4 separate regions of the Homo sapiens genome follow, and regions 1, 3 and 4 are each linked to region 2. Evidence: fine-mapped expression QTL. A gene starts in region 2. Each other region holds a variant in brackets. All regions are shown on one strand. Distances are between the middles of the regions. Region 1 overlaps LRMDA (leucine rich melanocyte differentiation associated). Region 2 holds the start of ZNF503 (zinc finger protein 503). Region 3 overlaps LRMDA (leucine rich melanocyte differentiation associated). Region 4 overlaps ZNF503-AS1 (ZNF503 antisense RNA 1).

Region 1 (4,673 bases), 56 kb after region 2:
CCTTATGTACACACAGGATAGCACAGTCCAATTAATTGCCAGGAGTATAATAGAGGTTCTCATGCCCAAGAAGTTGTCAGAAGGGAGAGCATCTTCAAAAGAAACTTCATGAAGAAACTGAGACCTGAGCCACCTCCTGGAGGGAGGGCAGGATTTTCCATGCTGCCTTAAGACTTCGGAGCCTGTACAACATCAGGGCTTTGGGGCCAGGATTTTCCTGAGTAGGAATGGTGAGAACCTGATCTGTATGCCCTCAGGGGTGGGTTGGAATCCACAAGAGAAACTGGAGAACAGGGTAAGTTTCTTCCCACACCCAAAGACATAAACCCTTTTGCTGTGTAGCGTAGTGGTGATTCTGGGACATAGAAGCTGGCCATGCCAGAGTCTTTCAGAGAGGCCAGCCAAGTAAGGACTCAAGGTATGGGTTCTCCCATCAAATTTTCACCCTGGAGTGACAGGAGTTGCGGGGGAGACAAGCCACCTCCAGCGGGTGGAGGGCAGCCCATTCCCAGGCTGAGCAGGGCCTGCGTTTCGGCCCTGACACATATACGCGGCAATTACGCTGTTAGAAGGGTCACGGTTAATGCAGTTCTTCCAAGACTCCTGCCACAAGCATGTGCCTCTTCACACCCAGCAAGGCCCTGTGGGCTGGCTCTGTGCTCGTTCAGAAGGGGAGGAACCAAAACTTGAAACCTCATCTTTCAGAAATTGCATTTATTTTCACTCTTTCATGCCACAGTGTTTCTGCAAGGCCAGCACTTAGGGGTACATTCTTCCCTGGGAGAATTGGTAGATTATTGATTCTGTGAGTGCCTTAGGGCCTTTGCAGAAACTCTGTCTCCCATTGAAATGTATGCTTTTCCAGGATGGGATAACAGCTTCTCTTTCAGAAGTGCCCAGGACAGGGTTACACACTAGGTAGGTGCCCCTCTATCAGAAGACACAATCTAACCTGGGAATTCTTCTTTTGCTAAAATGGATTTTATTTTATTTTATTTTGTTTTTTGAAAAAGAGCTTGCTCTTTCGCCCAGGCTGAAGTGCTGTGGCACAATCTTGGCTCACTGCAACCTCCGCCTCCCAGGTTAAAGTGATTCTCCTGGCTCAGCCTCCCGAGTAGCTGGGATTACAGGTGCGTGCCACCACTCCCAGCTAATTTTTGTATTTTTAGGAGAGTCAGGGTTTCACCATTTTGGCCAGGCCGGTCTCGAATTCCTGACCTCAGGCAATCCACCTGCCTTGGCCTCCCAAAGTGCCAGGATTATAGGCATGAGTCACCTCACGTGGCGGTAAAATGGATTTTAAAAAAAACATGGTAATTGCTTATTCTAGAAGAGGTAATGGTACTGGTGACTCCCATTCATCTATCAGTTTTCCCTGATGACCTTCTTGAATCTTTATGGCAAGCAAGGTGTTCTTTCCAGCTTAAAGACAGAGAACAAAAATGTGCAGAGGTTAAAAGGCTTTCCCAAGGGCATGCAGCTGGTCAGTGGGGGGACCAAGATCTAAATGCAGCTTTGCCTGACTACAAAGTCGACTGTTAGCTCCTATACTGTATTCTATTTGATGCATGTTTCCCCTAATTCAAATTCATTGTTGTCCTAAGATCTTTATCTGGCAAACTAGTATAGGTTGACTGAGAAGAGGAAAATTGTCTTCCAGGCTCATGAAAAGGGGACAACCCCTACAGCGTAGTGGTGATTCTGGGATGTAGAAGTTGGCCATGCCAGAGTCTTTCAGGGAGGACAGCCAAGTAAGGACTCGAGGTATGGGTTCTCCCATCAAACCTTCTCCCTGGAGTGACAGGAGTTGCGGGGGAGACAACTAAGGCTGCTGTTGTTTTATTTTCTTCCCAAACTTATATTTCACCTTATCATTTTTTCAGGAGGAGATAAAACTGTAGGCACTGAGGCTGTACATTAAATAATAGTGTTTTGAAAGTCTATAGAAAATTAGGTTAAGTTTTATTGTCCTGTTCCTTTATGGACCACCAGTTTTTGGTTCTATCTCAGATATGTTTTAGTCCTCTTGCTGCTGCCGTTTATCTGGACGGCATTTTCCATCAGTTACAGGCAAAGAATATTGTCCTCTTTTCTCACTCCTCAGAGTGTTTCTGGGTTCCAGGGGAAAGAGGTGATTTGAATGCAAATGCACTTTAAATCACTAACACTACATAACTCTAATGCATTACTGCCATTTTTT[CT/C]TTTTACTTTTAATTGAGAAACTGAACTCTTGCTAGTTTGAAGCTCAGAGTCATTGTTGGAGACCAAGAAGCTGGGGTATTTCTGGCTGGAGGATGATCTAGTAGAAAATCAAGGAGATCATTAAGACACAGGATGCCTGAGTATTGAGTATTGAGTATTTGTCTTTGTTCCATCACAAATCGTCTGTGAAATATTGAGTAGGTCATTTAATCTCTGTTGTCATTCTCCAAATGGGAGATAGAAGGAGTTGTGAAGACCAAATGAAATACTAAATGTAAAAGAGTTTTGTTCCTGTAGAAGATATACTGAAAGAGTAGATATCCCAAAAGTAGTTTATTTCATTTTTGATTCTTTTGACTTTGAGCAGGTTTATCTTTAAGATTATTTTGCTTGGGGTCCTATGGCATTGGTTGTTTATAGGTTTGGTTTTGCAAAGTTAGGGCTCTGTGGGGGGTCTACTTCCTGCCAGACTGTAGATTGCAAAGTTATGGACTTGGGTCTGAATGGCCAGGTTTCCCTTGGGCAAGGACAACTGAGAGTATAACATTTTCCAATTCAATTATGTTTTAAAAGGGAAGAGGGAGGAAGCAGAATCTTCATTAGAACAAAATAAACATGATGATTATTAGCAGTGATAGAATACTAAATAAGGTATGTCATTATAGTAAGATTTTAAGAAAGCCAAACGTCAGAGTAAAATTCCATATCTTACTTAACAATTTTGAGGCATGATTTTTATCTAGTTGTACCTCTGAGCTCAGAGAAGAATTTTATCACCTAACCCTCTACAGCAGTTTCAACATAGATGCACCCCACCCTTCCCCAATTTGCTCTTCCACAGACTGTACCTGATGGGACAAGCTTTCCGTCAGGTAGCAGGAGGAACTAAATTTACTCTTCCTGCCTTGGGCTTGAGAACAGTTATCTTCCTGGTTCATGTAGTATCAAAAGGAAGATCATAGACCTTGCAAGGAGCAAGCGGCTATTTTTACAACCATAAAAAAAACTCCCATCTGATTTTTTTGTCTTTACTAAAAGTTTTCATTTTATGCAATTTCTGATCTACCTTGAATTGAATGGTTCAGTTGTAACTTCAGGGTCTGCTTTAGATTTTTTTTTTTTCTTTTAAGGACTTGTTAGAACCTCTTTACAGAAGATGATTGTAAAAATCACAGGCAGTACGCAGCAAGATGGAATGTGGAAATTTGAAATTGATTTAATATTAGGAAAAAAAACCCGCTGCTTTTAGAGTGTTAACTAGTCAGATTGGCTAGGTGCAGTAGTTCATGCCTGTAATTCCAGTACTTTGAGAGGCTGAGGCTCACTTGAGGCCAAGAGTTTGAGACCTGCCTGGGCTGAACATAGTAAGATCTTGTCCCTACAAAAAATTTAAAAATTAGCCAGGCATGGTGGCACACACTTATAGTCCCAGCTACTTGGGAGGCTGAGGTGGGAGGATTGCTTGAGCCCAGGAGTTTTGAATTCTGCAGTGAGCCATGATTGTGCCATAGCATCATGAAAGGGAGGCCTCAACCATACCTCTTTATCACAGTGCTCAACTTCTCCTGGGATCCCCTATGCTATGCTGCACAAAAGCACACGCTTCCAAAGGACCTTAGGTTGGTTTAATCCAGTGGTTTTTCAAAGTTATTTTTCTAGCAGCAGAATCCTTGTCAAACAAATTATAGAAAGCCCATTATGGAATACAAATATATATATTTTTTAAGCTCAGCAAAAACAGTGAAACTATTCAGATGAACACTGGGTGTCTCAGTTCATTTTGTGTTGCTAGACAGTATACCTGAGATTGGGCCATTTATAATGAACAGAAATGTACTGGCTTATGGTTCTGGAAGTTGGGAAGTCCAAGATCTAGGGGCTGCATCTGATGAGGGCCTTCTTGCTACATCATCGCATGGTGGAAGTGCAAGGGCAAGAGAGCAAGTGATTGAACTTGCAGCCTCAAGCCCTTTTATAATCTGCATTGCTCCATTCATGAAGGTGGAGTCCTCATCACTCTTATTAATAAATGCCTCGTATTAGGCTCCACCTCCTAACACTGTTGCATTGGGGATTAAGTTTCCAATACATGAACTTTGGGGAACACATTCAAACCATAGCACTGGGTTTGGTATTAAGGTTAGAGACAAAATGCAGTTTTATACTGGCCCCAGCATTCAGATTATTCTTGTATTTGGGTTTGAGTGTGCAATATTTAAATGTCAATACACTCAGTTAAGTATTTGCAAATAGTGACATTTATTTTCCCCTTAAAGTTCATCCTGTAATATCAGATTATTGTTTAAATAATTGTAAGAAGAAGCTGTATTTTGAAAAGTGAGTTAATGTGATTGCGTAAGTTAATATACCAGTATCTTCTAGTGTGTTAAAATTTGGTGTAGTATGTCTTTGGGAGTACATACTGCCTTTTGAATTATGTTTTTTAAATAGTTAAAATAATTTAAAAGTTA
Region 2 (4,673 bases):
CGAGGAGTGCACACCGTGCAGCGGGTGCGTGGGGTACACCAGCGGGTATCCGGACTTCAGCGCCGCAGCCGCAGCAGCCGGATCATGTGCGCAAGAAGCGCTGGCGGCCGCCGCCCCTGCCAGGTGGCTAGCGCAGTGGTAGCTGAGGCAGTAAGGGTCCCGGCACAAACTGGCTGTCATCACGGACGGCGGAGACGCTCCGGCCAAAGGGCTGGAGCCGGCCGGCTTACTGCAGCCCAGAGACCCGGCCGCGGCCGCCGCCAGCTGCGCCCCCACCAGGCTGCCCGGCTTGGTGGGGTCAAGTGCCACGCCGTGTGGCAGGAACTGGGGCGGGTAGCCGGCGTAGGCCCCGGCCAGGCTGCCTGGGTAGGTCATACCCGCGGGAGGCAGAGGGAACACTGTCTGGCCCGGCTTGTAGGGTGACACGGGAGCCACCAGCCCAGAGCCCAACACTGAGGAGGAGGTGGGCGCGCTGGGGCCGGAGCCGGAGCTGGAGCCCGATGAACCGCCGCAGTCCGAGCCCAGAGCCTTGCCTCCCGGGCCCCCATCCGGATGCTGGTTCACATCCACATTAATCCCGCCGCCGCAGCTAATCCGGCCGTGTGCCAGCCCCGTGGGTCCCCCTTCGGCCGAGGCGCCCCCGGTGCCCTTGCCACCGCCGCCCACGTCGGTGTCTTTCTTGTCGTCCTTGCCCTCCGGGGCACCCCCGGCCGAGGACAGCATACCTCCCGGCGAGCAGGCCGAGGCGCTGGAGCTCGGGCTGCCTGTCCTGGGCGTGAATGGCTGGCAGGTGGCGCTCGGTACCCGGAATCCCGACTTCTCCGACGAAACACCCCCGCCGCCGCCCCCGCCACCGCCACCGCCTCCACCGCCGCCTCCCGGCTCCTTCTTATCCGAGCCGGGTTTGGAGTACGGCTTGAAACTCGACTTGTCCTCCACGCCGATGTCGCTCAGCTTCAGGGGGCCCGATTTGGTGTCCTTGTCGCCCGCAGCACCGCCGCCGGCACCGCCCGCGCCGCCCCCGTTGGAGGCAACCGAGGAGAGTTTGGAGGAGGGCGAGGGGTCGGGCTTCCCGATCTGCGAACATGTTTGCGCCAACAGCGCCAGCGGGCTCTTCTTGGCATCGAGCTGCGGGGTCAGACGATGGGGGGGGAGCGTCACACAGAGAAAGAAGTGGAAACCCTTTAGAATCCTGGCTTCTGGGGTTCAAATGCCTCTCCGCAACAGCCCACGAAGATCCTCCCAGCCCCAAGGCGCAATTCTAGGCGGCACCCCCTCTTCAACACCCACTCACAAACATTCTCGCCGTTGGGAAAGGCAGCAGATTGCTCCCCCCGCCCAACCACCACCCCCAGCAGCATCTTTCCTGCCCTCTCTGAGCGCTAACTAGATTTTTAAAGAGCAAAATGTTTTGGTTTTCGGTTCCTAGACCCAGAACTGTACCCCCTCCCCACAAACACTCCTTAATTCTTCAGAGTAAGGGCTCGGGCGGCTGGCGCCTCAGAGGCTGTGTGCACACACTGGCTTCTGCGGATACGAAGGACGGCGACTTTGGAACCGTATTTCAGACCTCCGCCTGCCTTCGGTGCCGAGTGAAGGGGCCTGGGTCGGGGTAGGGGCTTTCATATCGAAAGGAGAAACAAGTATTGGCAGCCTTGCTCCCTAGCATGCACGCCCCATTCCACTTCCTCCCCCTTTTCCGCCCTAGTTTTGAGGTACGGAAGCAGTAGCCTCTTCCCCCATTCGGGAGCTGAATCACTCCGACCCCCCCACCTCCGCCCAGATCCCGAGAAAAAGAAAGCCCTAGGGTGGCAGCCAGGGTAGTGGTCCCAGTGCGATCCAGAGAGAGGGTCCTTACCTCGATGGGGCTGACCGGCGTGGAAGGCAGGGGCTGCAGGTACTCGGGGTGCAAAATGTGGCCAGTTCGTGCCGTCAGCATCTTCAGCACCTTGATTGGCAGGCGGTTGGCCTGGCGCAGGGGGTCAGAGGGGGGCACGGCGTGCACAAAAGGCTTGGTGCTGCCGGCCGGGGACGAGCCTGGGCCGGGGCCGGAGCTATTTCCAGAGAGCGCGCTGGTCCAGGCAGGGTCTGCACCGCCGCCTCCGCCTCCGCCGCCGCCGCCGCCGCTGTGCTTACTGCTTCTTAGGGCAGAAAGCGAGGGCGCTGTGCTCATGACCCACCCGCGCGCATGGGAGCAGCGGGGGGGAGGGCTCCGGGAGGCGCGGGGCGGGCTCGGGGCTGCGCGCTCGCCCCGGGAGCAGGAGCAGCGGGAGGAGGAGGAGCTGGCGCGGCGGCCACGGGCGCCCAGCGCGCCTTCTCGGCGCCTGGAGCCAGACGCGAGTAATCCTGGGTGGCCCGCAGCGGAGCCGTGGCCGGGCTAGAGGAGCCGGCTGGACTGCGGGAGTGCCGGGCGGCTCGCGGTGTCCGCCTCGGGCTGCTCCCCTGCGCTGCGTTCTCGCGGCCCCGCGCCGGCGCTGCGCTCTGCGATGCGAGCCGCTGCGTGTCCAGCCGGGGCTCTGGCGAGGAAACTCACTTCAAAAGCAGCTGCACCAAGGGGGAGATTAAAGCCTTTGCCGCCTTCCAATCAAATGGGAGCCCGAGGTGATTGGAGGGTCAAGGGGATGTGACGCGTCCCGCGCCGCCGCCGCCGCCGCTGCCAGGACTCTCAGTGCCGGTTTTAATGGGCAGCTCCCTCTTCGCCGCCCCCCTGTGTGTCCCCTCCCTCGATTTCGCTGGGAGGACGAGATGGACATTTATTCTACGTTTGCCATCCGCCGCCTCCCTCTTTTTTCCTCCTCGTCGTTCTTCCTTTCCCCAGCTCGAAAATAAACTGAAACCTTCTTTTGAAGGGGGGTGCGCGTGAGGAACAGACTGCGGGGGGTGTCCAGAAGGAGCACCGGTGGGAGTGTGGACACCGGCCGGACTGTCAACTCCAGGGGCGAAGGGAACCTGCACACCCAGTGTTTTTTCCTTCGCAGTAATCGAGATCCCGCGCGGCGCAGCGCAGCCACCAGGGTAAGAAGGCAAGGTGGGGAGCCGGAGCTGGAAGAAGCCCGCCCGCCCGCTCTAATTTCCTCAGATTCCGCGGCGGAGAAACCAGAAGCTAGATGGGCAGTCGCAGCGGCGGCGGCTCAACACCGCGAGGAGCGCTGGGCTCTCCGCCCTTCCCGGCCACGTGACGCCCGGGGACGCGTAGATTGGGGCAGCAGCGGGGGTCACATGTTTCCTCTGTTTCACCCTCAGTCTGTCCCCCAACCCCCCATTCTTACTCTCCCACCCTGTTTTCCTCCCTCCCCCCCTTCTTTGGGCATCTCCACCCCTCCATCAATTGTCAATGTTCCTCGACCGCAATCAATCAGTTATTTGTCAGCTCTTGTCAATCCTCCCGTGATTTATGTCAGCTTTTGTTGCTGATTACAAGGCGGGTGCGACTTGAAGGGAAAAAGAGAGAGGGAGAGAGAGACGGAGAGGAAGGAGGAGATTGAGAGGGAACTGGAGGAGGGGAAAAGAGGAGCGGCCTCCTGGGATGGGGGTGGGGTGGGGGCTCTAAGAAAAAGAATGAAAGAGGCGCACGGTGTCAGGAAAATGAATAGCGAGAGTAAAGTGCGCAGGTGCGCCCAGGGCGCCGAGAGGGGCGCGCAGGCCTGGAGTGTGCGCCTGCCCTCTCGGTGTCGGAGAGACGCCCTTCCACCTCTGGGAGCCTCGGTCTGTTGGGGTCGCGGAGTTCGGGCGCGGCTCCGGGTACCCGAGACCAGCGGCGGCAACTTCTAACACGGGAGATTTCCCGCCACCCCACCCCGCCGCCGCGAGTCCTCGCGGGGCGTGTTGCGTGCGGAGGTCAGGCTGCCACCCTCTGTAGTTCCCTAACCCCAAACTCGGAGACTTCTAAGAGCCACACCACCAAGGAACTTCTAGTCCTGGAGGTCAATGGTGGGGCAAACCTCGCCTCAATTCTTTGACCCCCTCGGGTCGTAAGCAGGGCTAAGAGGCTGCGAAGAAGAGGCCTGGCCATGGGTGTATGGGGGAAGAAACATCTCAGGCTCACTCATGCCCCCTCCCCGACCTTCTCCCACCTGCCGCCATCCCCGCAGGCTGGGGAGCCAGGGTAACTCGGGGCTGCTCTCTCGAATTTATTGGAACGCCGAGTCGGAATGAGCTGCGCTAGGAGAGCCGAGGGAAGGAGCGAGAGAGGGAGGGGGCGGCTGCCTGTGGGAACGCGGGTTCTTCCAGGGAAGCGGAGCGGGACTGCCGCGTTCCCCTCGATTTGCACCGTCACTCGGGTTGTTTGGGAAGAAAAGGGGAGGCGCTGTGCGTGCCACCGGGTACCTGGACCTGGATGCCCAGTGTGTATGCATGCCTGTGGCGCTGCGTGAGTTATCGGGGCTCTGATAGCGTCCGGAGCGGGTTCGAGGGTCTCCTCCAGGAACTCGCAGAAATTAGAGGGGGTGGGGAGGAGGACACACCCCCTTCCTCGGAACGACTTAGAAGACTTTGAATCTCCCCTCCTCCGCTTTTCCGCCCCGGCTCTTCTTTTGTTGTCAAGTCCTTTTGATAAATGGTGGGGCTGGGAGCTCTGGGAGTCGGGAGCCAGTCTGTGCCCGCGTGGGGGGCGGGGGCCGAGCCTGGAGACCCGGTTTCGACCGGCGCGCACCTGGGGCTGAGCCGGGTGCGCG
Region 3 (4,673 bases), 580 kb after region 2:
ACAACATGCTTGGCATAATACCTGGCACATAGTGAGAGTTTACTAAATATATACCATAGATAATAATTGCAGTATTATTAACATGATGAGGATTAATGCAAGGCACTGTATTAGCTGCTGATAATAATGATGCACAATCCCCAAAAAGTTCACTTGTGTATTTAAAAACCAATGAGGAAGATGGATGCTTTAATGAGCGATGACCACCAAGTATGTACAAGCTATGACAGATGATCTACAGATGCTATGGAAGGACCAGCATTTCTTTAAATAAAAACTACTGGTAACTTTCATCTTAGGTCAGGCATTGTACTAAGTCCTTTGGGACGGAGTTATTTTACTGAATCCTGCATGGTAGATGCTGTACCATAATTATCCCATTCTGTAGACACTGAGGACTGGAGAAGTAACTTGTCTAGGTCACGCAGCTCTAGGGGGCTGAAGGCCCTGGGCTCTAAGCCACTGTCCTACTGCCCAACTTGCCTGAGTGCCTCTACACTGATGGTTGTTTCCCAGGACTTCCTGATTTTTTTCTGAAGGATGGAAACAAAGACGACCCAATAGGAGTGAGGTCATTACCTCCCTCCCATTCTCCCTTCAGCACCAGATCTCCAGGAGATGGTTCAGTAAAACAGCAGTGAATTGGATAGAGGAATCGTCTCTGTGGAGTGACTTTCCTTGTTTCTTTGGGGTGGACCATTCTGGGCTTTCCTCCTTTACACATGTGCTCATGTGACACTCTTTGTGGAGTGCCAGGGACTGTGTCCTTCGAGGACAGATTGGGTACCCTGTTTTCTGTGGCCTTCCATGAAAACTGCCCATGGCATGCTCTCCTTTCTTTGGGCCTTGAACTCTGAACGATGCACAGAGGCACTTCTGTCACATCTTCCTTTGATTCTATGTTGTGTGTATTAGGCTGCTGTGACTATCTCTAAAGTTCTTTTAGAATAGAAATCATGTCTGCTCAATATTCTACAGCATCTGTCTCAGGCTGATGAGCATCCCAGGCCTCTCCAAAATCAGAGTCATTTTTTCTTTCTTTCTTTCCTTCACCACCGTTTCCAATTCATCACAGAGTCCTGTCAGCTCTAATTCTAAAATGTTTCCTGAATCTCTTCCACCACCACCCTGGGCCAAGCCACCATTACATATTTCTGGGACAACAGTAGTAGCTTCCAAACTGCTCTCTTCCTTTTCTTCTTTTCTTCCTACAATCTATTTGCCACATGGCAGCCAGAGTGGGCGTTCAAATTGTCAATCAGCTCCTGTCACTCTCTTGCTGAATTCCCTCCAGCAGTTACCTGTTGCACTTGGTGTAAAATCCAAAGTCCTTCCATGGCCTACAAGGCCTGGTCTGGTCTGGTCCTATCAACGTCTCCCACTTCATCCCTGCAGAACTCTCTCTACTCTGTACATGCCAGGCCCCTTGGCCTTGTGTGGTCACTCAAAAAGAACAAACCTATTCATTCGTTCATTCATCTTAGAATCTTTAACAAGCTATTCCTTTTGTATACAACATTCTTGGTTAAGTTGGTCCCTTCTTATCTTTTAGGTCTCAACTCAAATATTGCCTTCTCGAACACTCATATAACCCACTTATAACTGGCAGTCTCTCTCTATTCTGTTGCTTTTTTGTTTTCTTCAGATCACGTATTATTATCTTCACAAGTGCTGTTTATTCATTTGCCTAAATGTGTATTGTCTGTCTACCCCCAGTAGAGTATAAACTCCATGAGCCAGGGCCTTCACCTACCTTGTTCTTTCAATCCTATGCCCCCTGCACCTGGCAGAGGGGCTGAACCATAATGCCAGCTAATAACTAATAAGCAGTTAATATTTGTCAAAGTATTACTATTTGCCAGGCATTGTCCCAAGCCCTTCACATATATTAAGCCATTTAGTGTTTACAATGACCACAGGATGTGGATATTATTATTATTCCCATTTTACTGATGAGGAAACTGAGGTATGGAGGGTTTATGAATGCAGTAGCTCAAGGGCATACAGCTAGTAAGTGGCAGAGTCTGGATTCAAGGCTCCAGAGCATGTGTTCCTAATCGCCACATTACAATGCCTCTCTAGTAGATACTGAATAAACCCTTGTTGGGTGAATTAATGAATAGAAGATGCTCAGTAGAGCTTTGTTGGGTAAACACAATCATGGATTATTGTGGAAATGTCTTAGGCCTGAACATTGTCAACCTCCAAGAGCAGAGGGCATGGCACTGTCTACGTGGGTATGAAATGCCCCATAACCGTAAATGGGGTCTGCTCACACCACATTTGCTATTTATACTTTATACTAGATAGAGCCCTCTAGCTCGATGGTTCTTTTCTTCCCTTTTTTTTTTTTTTCCTTTTTTAAAGAGAAGAGAATTGTGGGAAATATTTTGTTTTCCCTGGGAGCCAGACTATGTATTTACTTCAAGTTTTATTAAATGAGTTATAAATTTTCCCAGCAATTTACTCATAGCTCAAGAGGTTTAATTTGCATGTGTTGCCTTTTACAATATGCTTTTCGTAATGTTGCAGATGCTTCTTCCCCAGCTTCAGTAAACAACAGGCACTCCGCCAGGTTTTTGACTGAACATGTGCCAGGCCTGGGAAATATGAGTTAACTCCATGGTGACTGTTGGGGGCCACACGTCCCCCTCTGTCCAGGGCATCTGGGGAGCTGAGTCGAATTCCTGAGGGGCAGGAGCAAAGATTTTCTGAATCTTCTTTTTGGACATCTTTTTAATATTTTTTTCCACACGCAAAATAAAT[A/C]AATAAACAGACATTTCTGCCTAAGTATCAGGTTTGCACTGGTCCTAATTAGAAAGTAGTGTTAATAGGATGACAGAAAGCATTTGCTAGGGCCCCCAGGGTGATCTCTAGAGAGGCTAAAGTCACTTTAGCCTTTGGGGAGCTGCCCACGGCCTATGATGGTGAAGCCCTTTGAGCTTCGAAGAAGCCAGTCCCTCTGAGGGTCCAGGTCTGATGCCTGTTTCATTTCAGGTAGAGAGCCTCAGGGTTGAGAACTCATCTTCTGGTGTCACACTGTCGGGTTGAGTTCTGGCTCTGCCACTTATTAGTCGTGTGACCTTGGACAAGGTACTTAACCTCTCTGTGCCTCAGTTTCCGCATCTGTGGAGATAATGGTCATAATGGTCCCTGTCTTGTAAGTTTGTTGGGGGAATTAAATGGAATACTGCATATAAAGCGTTTGGAGGAGAGTGGTTTATAAATGGACACATAAATGGCATGCTGATTGTCCCAGGGCTATTCAGTTCATTGGCTACAACTTAGGGGACAGATCCTCTCAGTGAGTTATTCCTGGTTGGAGATGGAGGGCACTGGAGCAAGGGATGGATGGTGTGTTCATTAGAATGAGGCTTAGCTGCATGTAGCAGAAGAGCTCAAGTTAACAGTGACTTAGCATTGTAGAGATTTATTTCTCTCACATAAAAGGAGTATGGAAGTATTGCAGGGCTGGTGTGATAATTTCATGGTGTCATGAGGAACCCTGGTTCCCTCTCTTTGTAGCTCTGACATTCTTAGCATATTTTCTCATGATTCAAGATGGCAGCTTGTGCTCTTGTCATTCTGTGCGCATTCCTCCCTCAAGAAGCAGGGAGGAGGAAGGAACAAACAGGAGTCTCATTACCTCTTAAGGAAACTTCCAGCAAGTCCCACGTAAGACATTCTTTGACATCTCATTGGCCAGAGTTTAGTCACAGAGCCACAGCTAGCTGAAAGGAAAATGGAATCGTTTAGCTTGGCAGCCACATGCCAAATAAAAATCCAGGTTCTGTTACAAAGCAGGAGGTGGAGAATGGGTGTGGACGCAGTGAACTATCAGTGAGTTTCCAGTATTGTCCTGTGGTTTTGTGACTTGAGGTTGAAGGAATTCCCAGGTACATAAAGCAGTATTAAATTTTGTTTCCTAGATGATTTTAGGTGGCACAAATACATTTTTTATTTGAATAATCTTATAATTTTTTGTATGCAACCATATTATAATTACATATCAAACCCAGGATTTCACAGATCTCCTACAGTGTGATACAATGTTATAATGTTTTTCTTTAAGTCTAAATTTAACTGCATCAATGTTTAAAAAATTAAGTAAATGCCGGCATATAGAGATGAGCCAGGCAATCTGTGCAGTGGCTAAATGTGGGTCCTGGGGCCTGAGTTTGAATCTGTAACCTGCCACTTATTGGCCAAATGACCTTGGACTTTCCATGCATCACTTTGCTTATCTGTAAAATGGCATTAATAATAGTACCCATCTCACAGAGTTGTGATAAGGACCAAATGGGTTAGTACTTATAAAGCTCTAAGAATAGTGCCAGGCATGTGATGAGTAGCCCGTGAACATTAGTCATTGTTCTTATTGTTATTATTTCTGTTGTTATTGTTATTATTATGGCTTATATTACTGCTATTATTAATAATAATGATTACAATAGATGACATTTGAATAGAGCAGAAATTACAAGGGTGGTACATGCGTGACTGAAATTAGGGAAACACTGGCTTAGAGGAGTGAGATTGGCAGTTAATCAGGAGAGTCTTAGACACAGCTATAAATAATGACTTTATTAACAATTAAAACTAGTGCTTTATGTTTAAAGTGGCTCCATATATGATAATAACATTGATTAGAGTTTATTGAACATGGTGCCAGG
Region 4 (4,673 bases), 63 kb before region 2:
TTGGGCTACCTTATTGGCCTAGAATATCTCTACTCCTTCCTGTCTGTCTGCTAATTTGCAGTCTATTCCACCTCAAAGTTTCACTTCTTCTATTACACCTACTAAGCATCTCCAATGCAAACTGTTCTTCTGCTTTTCCTGTGCTTCTACTCACCCTGTCTATTCACAATTTTAGGTCCAAATTACATGTTCCAATGGAGGACTTGGAAACACATTAGAAACTCAATATTTAATACTTCCTTGTTAGACCTATACAGAATTGTCAAAAAAAAAAAAAAAGCCTAAGCTGAAAATTCCCAAAACTGATTTTCAAATCATCATCGTTATTATTATTATTATTTGCCTTAGAAGTGAGGCACATTTGCTAAATGTTAGGGAGCTCTGGAAAGGAGCATGGGTTGGTAGGAATAGGGTAGGGAATTGCACTCACTTTCTTCTTCTGCATAACAGATGACCACAATCACAGCAGCTGAAAACAACACCGGTTTATTATGTCTCAGCTCTGTGGGTCAGATGTCCAGGTGGCTTGTCTGATTTCTCTGTTTTGGATCTCACAAGGCCAAAATCAAGATGTTGGCCAGGCTGGGATCTTCTTGGAGGCTCTGGGGAAGAATCCATTTCCAACCTCATTCAGGTTGTTGGCAGATTCAGTTCCTGGTAACTGTGGGACTGAGGTCCCCATCTTCTTGCTGGCTAGGGTGTCACTCTCAGCCTATTGAGGCCACTCTCAGATCCTTCCATGTGGCCCCCTTAATCTCAGCAACAGAGAATTCCCATGCATTGAATTCTCCTGCCTTATTTTTCTGCTACCAGCTGGAGAAAACTCTCTGCTTTTAAAAGGCTTGTCTTACTGGGTTAAGCCCACCCAGCTAATCTCTCTATCTTAAGGTCAACTGACTTGGGTCTTTAATTATATCTGAAAAATTCTGGCAGGGTGTGGTGGCTCACACCTGTAATCCCAGCACTTTGGGAGGCCAAGACAGGTGAATTGCTTGAGCCCAGGAGTTTGAGACCAGCCTGGGTAACATGGTGAAACCCCATCTCTACAAAAAACACAACAATTAGTCGGGCGTGGTGGTGCGTGCCTGTAGTCCCAGCTACTTGGGAGGCTGGCTTAAGGTAGGAGGATGGCTTGAGCCCAGGAGGCCAAGGTTGCAGTGAGCCGAGATCGTGCTACTGCCCTCCAGCATGGGCAACAAAGTGAAAACCTGTCTTAAAAAAAAATTCTCGGTGGGGCACGGTGGCTCACACTTGTAATCCCAGCACTTTGGGAGGTCGAGGTGGGCGGATCACGAGGTCAGGAGTTCAAGACCAGCCTGGCCAACACGGTGAAACCCCATCTCTACTAAAAATACAAAAATTAGGGTGGTGGCAGGCGCCTGTAATCCCAGCTACTCAGGAGGCTGAGGCAGGAGAATCGCTTGAACCCAGGAGGCAGAGGTTGCAGTGAGCCAAGATCGTGCCACTGCCCTCCAGCCTGGGTGAAAGAGCTAGACTCCGTCTCCAAAAGAAAAAAAAATTCTCCACAGCAGTACCTAGATTAGTGTTTGGTTGAATAACCAGGGTATGGGAGTCTTGGGGAACCATCTTTAGAATTTTGCCAACCACAGGACTGATGAAGCAGAAAGCCAGAGAACCAATAAGGAAAGGACCACTTAGGTTCAGTGGACCAGTGGCTTGCAGAGCAAAAGCACCCTTCAGGATCACCTAATCTAGCCCTTTTATTCTTTGGATTGGAACACCAATACCTAGAGAGGGGAAGGGAATTTATAACTAATCTTCTATACATTCACCCTGGGCCAGATGTTGTACTAAATGCTTATGGAGAATATAGAGATAAATAAGACCCAGCATCTGCCCTTAGGATTTTATTACCCATGCATCCAAGGTCCGTGGAAGTTTATCTTAAGAAAATAGCTACTTAATCCTTGGAAATTATAGAATTGTGTGCTAGAAATGGACCTCAGAGATCAAATGTTCCAGTGTTTCTTAAGAATAGAAACAGTGACTTTAGATGACATGTAGACCAACATTTTAAATTGTAATCATAACGTCTTTATGTTAATGTTACCTTCTACTTATGGCAAATGATGCTATATTCCCTGCATTACAATGACATAAAGTTTCCTTCTGCCCTCTTTCCCTCACTCTCTCTTTTTTCCTTTTTTCACCTTGCATTTATGGAACACTTACTGTAGAAGACAACAGACGATGGTACTTAAGGCTTTGGCTTTGGAAAAAG[AGATACCTG/A]GATTCTGATCCTGAAGTCTCTCACTTAAACTTTACAAGTCTCACTTTCTCATCAGATAAGTAAGGAGAAATATATTATTTAAATGACATCATGTGTGTAAAGTGCTTAACAGAGGGCCCATAACATTGTAAGGATCTAATTGATGTTAGCAATTATAAAATTAACCCTTTTCTGGTCCAAGGGGAGAGGGGATTTCTGGTAAGGGGAGCTGGGCCTTGTTTCCCTGACCTCTCTGGGGAGTGGCAGCAGTGCTCAGGGCCCTCATCCCTCTCCTCCTCTCTCCTGGGACTTTTGAGAGTCTGGGAAGGTGCCTGAGATCTGGAACTTTCTGGAGAGAGAGCAAATGGATACAGAAAGTAAAGGAAATAATGGAAGGTGTCGCCATAGGGACATGCCTGTGGGAATCATCCATTCTTTGGAGAAGGAACACACACAGATTGGGCACCAGCGGTGTGCCCTGCTTCGAGAATCTTGCAGGGAGTGAGGCAGCTGCAATAGTTCCTATTCTGTCTCTACCCTAAGCCTCCTCCCAAGTCACTCTCGCTCTTTGCCTCCCTCTCTTTATTGAAAGAGTTGTTGAAGGCCGGGCACGGTGGCTCATGCCTGTAATCCTAGCACTTTTGGAGGCCGAGGCGGGTGGATTGCTTGAGCTCAGGAGTTTGAGACCAGCCTGGGAAACATGGTGGTGAAACCTCGTCTCTACTAAAATACAAAAAATTAGCCGGACATTATGGTACACACCTGTAATCCCAGCTACTAGAGAGGCTGAGACAGGAGAATTGCTTGAACCTGGGAGGTGGAGGTTGCAGTGAGCCGAGATCGTGCCATTGCACTCCAGCCTGGGTGACAGAGCGAGACTCCGTCTCAAAAAAAAAGAAAGAGTTGTTGAAATATCTCCTCCCTCTAAAAAATCTTCTTGCTCTGTTTGGAGTAGGAAGATGTTTCTCTCATGTATAAAAAAAAGGACTTCAGGTGGCCGTCAGAAGAGGAAAATGGGGGCTAGAGTCAGGCATTCAGATGGCCAAAGGCACCGGGTCACTTGGCAGTACATGAGAGGGGAGCTTCGGAAAGAAGATGGGAGAGCCTCCAAAACACTTATTAGCTCATAAAATGTCACCTGAGATAACCTCTGAATGTTTAGAAAACTGCTTGTTGTATGCCACCAGTGGTAGACATTCAAGGTGCTGTGACACGCTGGTGGGGGAGATATTTTGTCAAGAGCTAAAGAGAGAGCCCAGTGATAGGTGCCTATTCTGCCAACACACGGGTGGGTGTCGCCAGCGAGGAGCCAAGCCACCTGTGCCTTGGTGATGCCCCAAGGAGGCGGAGTCCCTGGGGGAAAAGTAGATTGGGGGGCAAAGGCGAATGGTATGGTAGAAGATGGTTTTATACATCTTGATGCTATTTAAGTTATGAAGACATAGCCTATAGGTCTTTTGCCAACCAACCATTGATTCGTCATGGGAAATGGGTTGTGAGACTCTCTGGTTCAGAATGTTTTTCTGGGCCACCTCTCTGCTTAGACTAGGGAGTGAAAACAAGTGACATAGATTTAAAATAATAATAATAAACTGGGCGCAGTGGCTCACGCCTGTAATCCCAGCACTTTGGGAGGTAAGGCGAGTGGATTACTTGAGCCCAGGAGTTTGAGACCAGCCTGGGCAACACGGCAAAACCCTATCTCTACAAAAAATACAAAAATTAGCTGGTGTGGTGGTGTGCGCCTGTAGTCGCAGCTACTCAGGACACTGAGGTGGGAGGATCACCTGAATGGGGGCCTGGTGGTGGGGGCCGGGGGGAGGGGGCGGGGGGTCGAGGCTGCAGTGAGCCGTGATCACACCACTGCACTCCAGCCTGGGCAACATAGTGAGACCCTGTCTCAAAATAACAACAATAATAATAATAGTCACACACACAGCAGTGAAACAAGACTTTCAACTCTACTGGTGGGAGTGTAAATTTGTCTGGTCTTTCTTGAGGCATTTGGGCAGTATCAAAGTCTTAAAAATGTTCATATACTTTATCCCAGCAATTCCACTTCTAGGAATGTGTTCTAAGAAAATAGTTGGACAAGTGCACAAAGATCAGCATATAATGATATCCATGATAGTTTTGTTCACAATCGTGAACAACTGAAAACAACCAAAATATCCAGCAATTAGAGATTGGATAATAAATGAAGGTAACTTCATAGAATACCATGCATCTATTGAAAAGGACACTGCTGCTGTCTCTTTTTTTTTTGTTTTTTGAGACAGAGTTTCGCTCTTGTTGCCCAGGCTGGAGTGCAATGGCATGATTTCAGCTCACTGCAACCTCCACTTCCCAGGTTCGAGCGATTCTCCTGCCTCAGCCTCCCAAGTAGCTGGGATTACAGGCATGCGCCACCACGCTGGGCTAATTTGTTTTTGTATTTTTAGTA

Evidence for each region. PIP is the estimated chance that this variant, and not a neighbour inherited with it, causes the effect. A credible set is the group of variants that fine-mapping cannot tell apart.
Region 1: its variant is the best candidate, but not a certain one, in a credible set for the expression of ZNF503 in whole blood (TOPMed, PIP 0.55).
Region 3: its variant is the best candidate, but not a certain one, in a credible set for the expression of ZNF503 in whole blood (INTERVAL, PIP 0.69).
Region 4: its variant is the best candidate, but not a certain one, in a credible set for the expression of ZNF503 in whole blood (INTERVAL, PIP 0.72).

The regions. Positions count from the first base shown.
Region 1 is chr10:75,455,689-75,460,361 of GRCh38, forward strand. All of the region lies in intron 2 of LRMDA (leucine rich melanocyte differentiation associated), which reads left to right. Among named protein-coding and RNA genes, the nearest start is that of LRMDA, 26 kb to the left of the region's middle. The variant CT/C (reference allele first, on the strand shown) is at 2,201.
Region 2 is chr10:75,399,247-75,403,919 of GRCh38, forward strand. ZNF503 (zinc finger protein 503) reads right to left here and starts at 2,518. Exons shown (of 2, transcript NM_032772.6): 1 at 1,859-2,518; 2 at 1-1,128. The coding sequence starts at 2,173. ZNF503-AS2 (ZNF503 antisense RNA 2) reads left to right here and starts at 2,282. Exons shown (of 2, transcript NR_024421.1): 1 at 2,282-3,015. RefSeq lists an enhancer at 1,520-2,020.
Region 3 is chr10:75,974,784-75,979,456 of GRCh38, forward strand. The region is part of intron 2 of LRMDA (leucine rich melanocyte differentiation associated); the gene reads left to right. Among named protein-coding and RNA genes, the nearest start is that of MIR606, 420 kb to the left of the region's middle. The variant A/C (reference allele first, on the strand shown) is at 2,767.
Region 4 is chr10:75,336,114-75,340,786 of GRCh38, forward strand. The region is part of intron 2 of ZNF503-AS1 (ZNF503 antisense RNA 1); the gene reads left to right. It also overlaps a transcript of ZNF503 not described here. Among named protein-coding and RNA genes, the nearest start is that of ZNF503-AS1, 42 kb to the left of the region's middle. The variant AGATACCTG/A (reference allele first, on the strand shown) is at 2,243.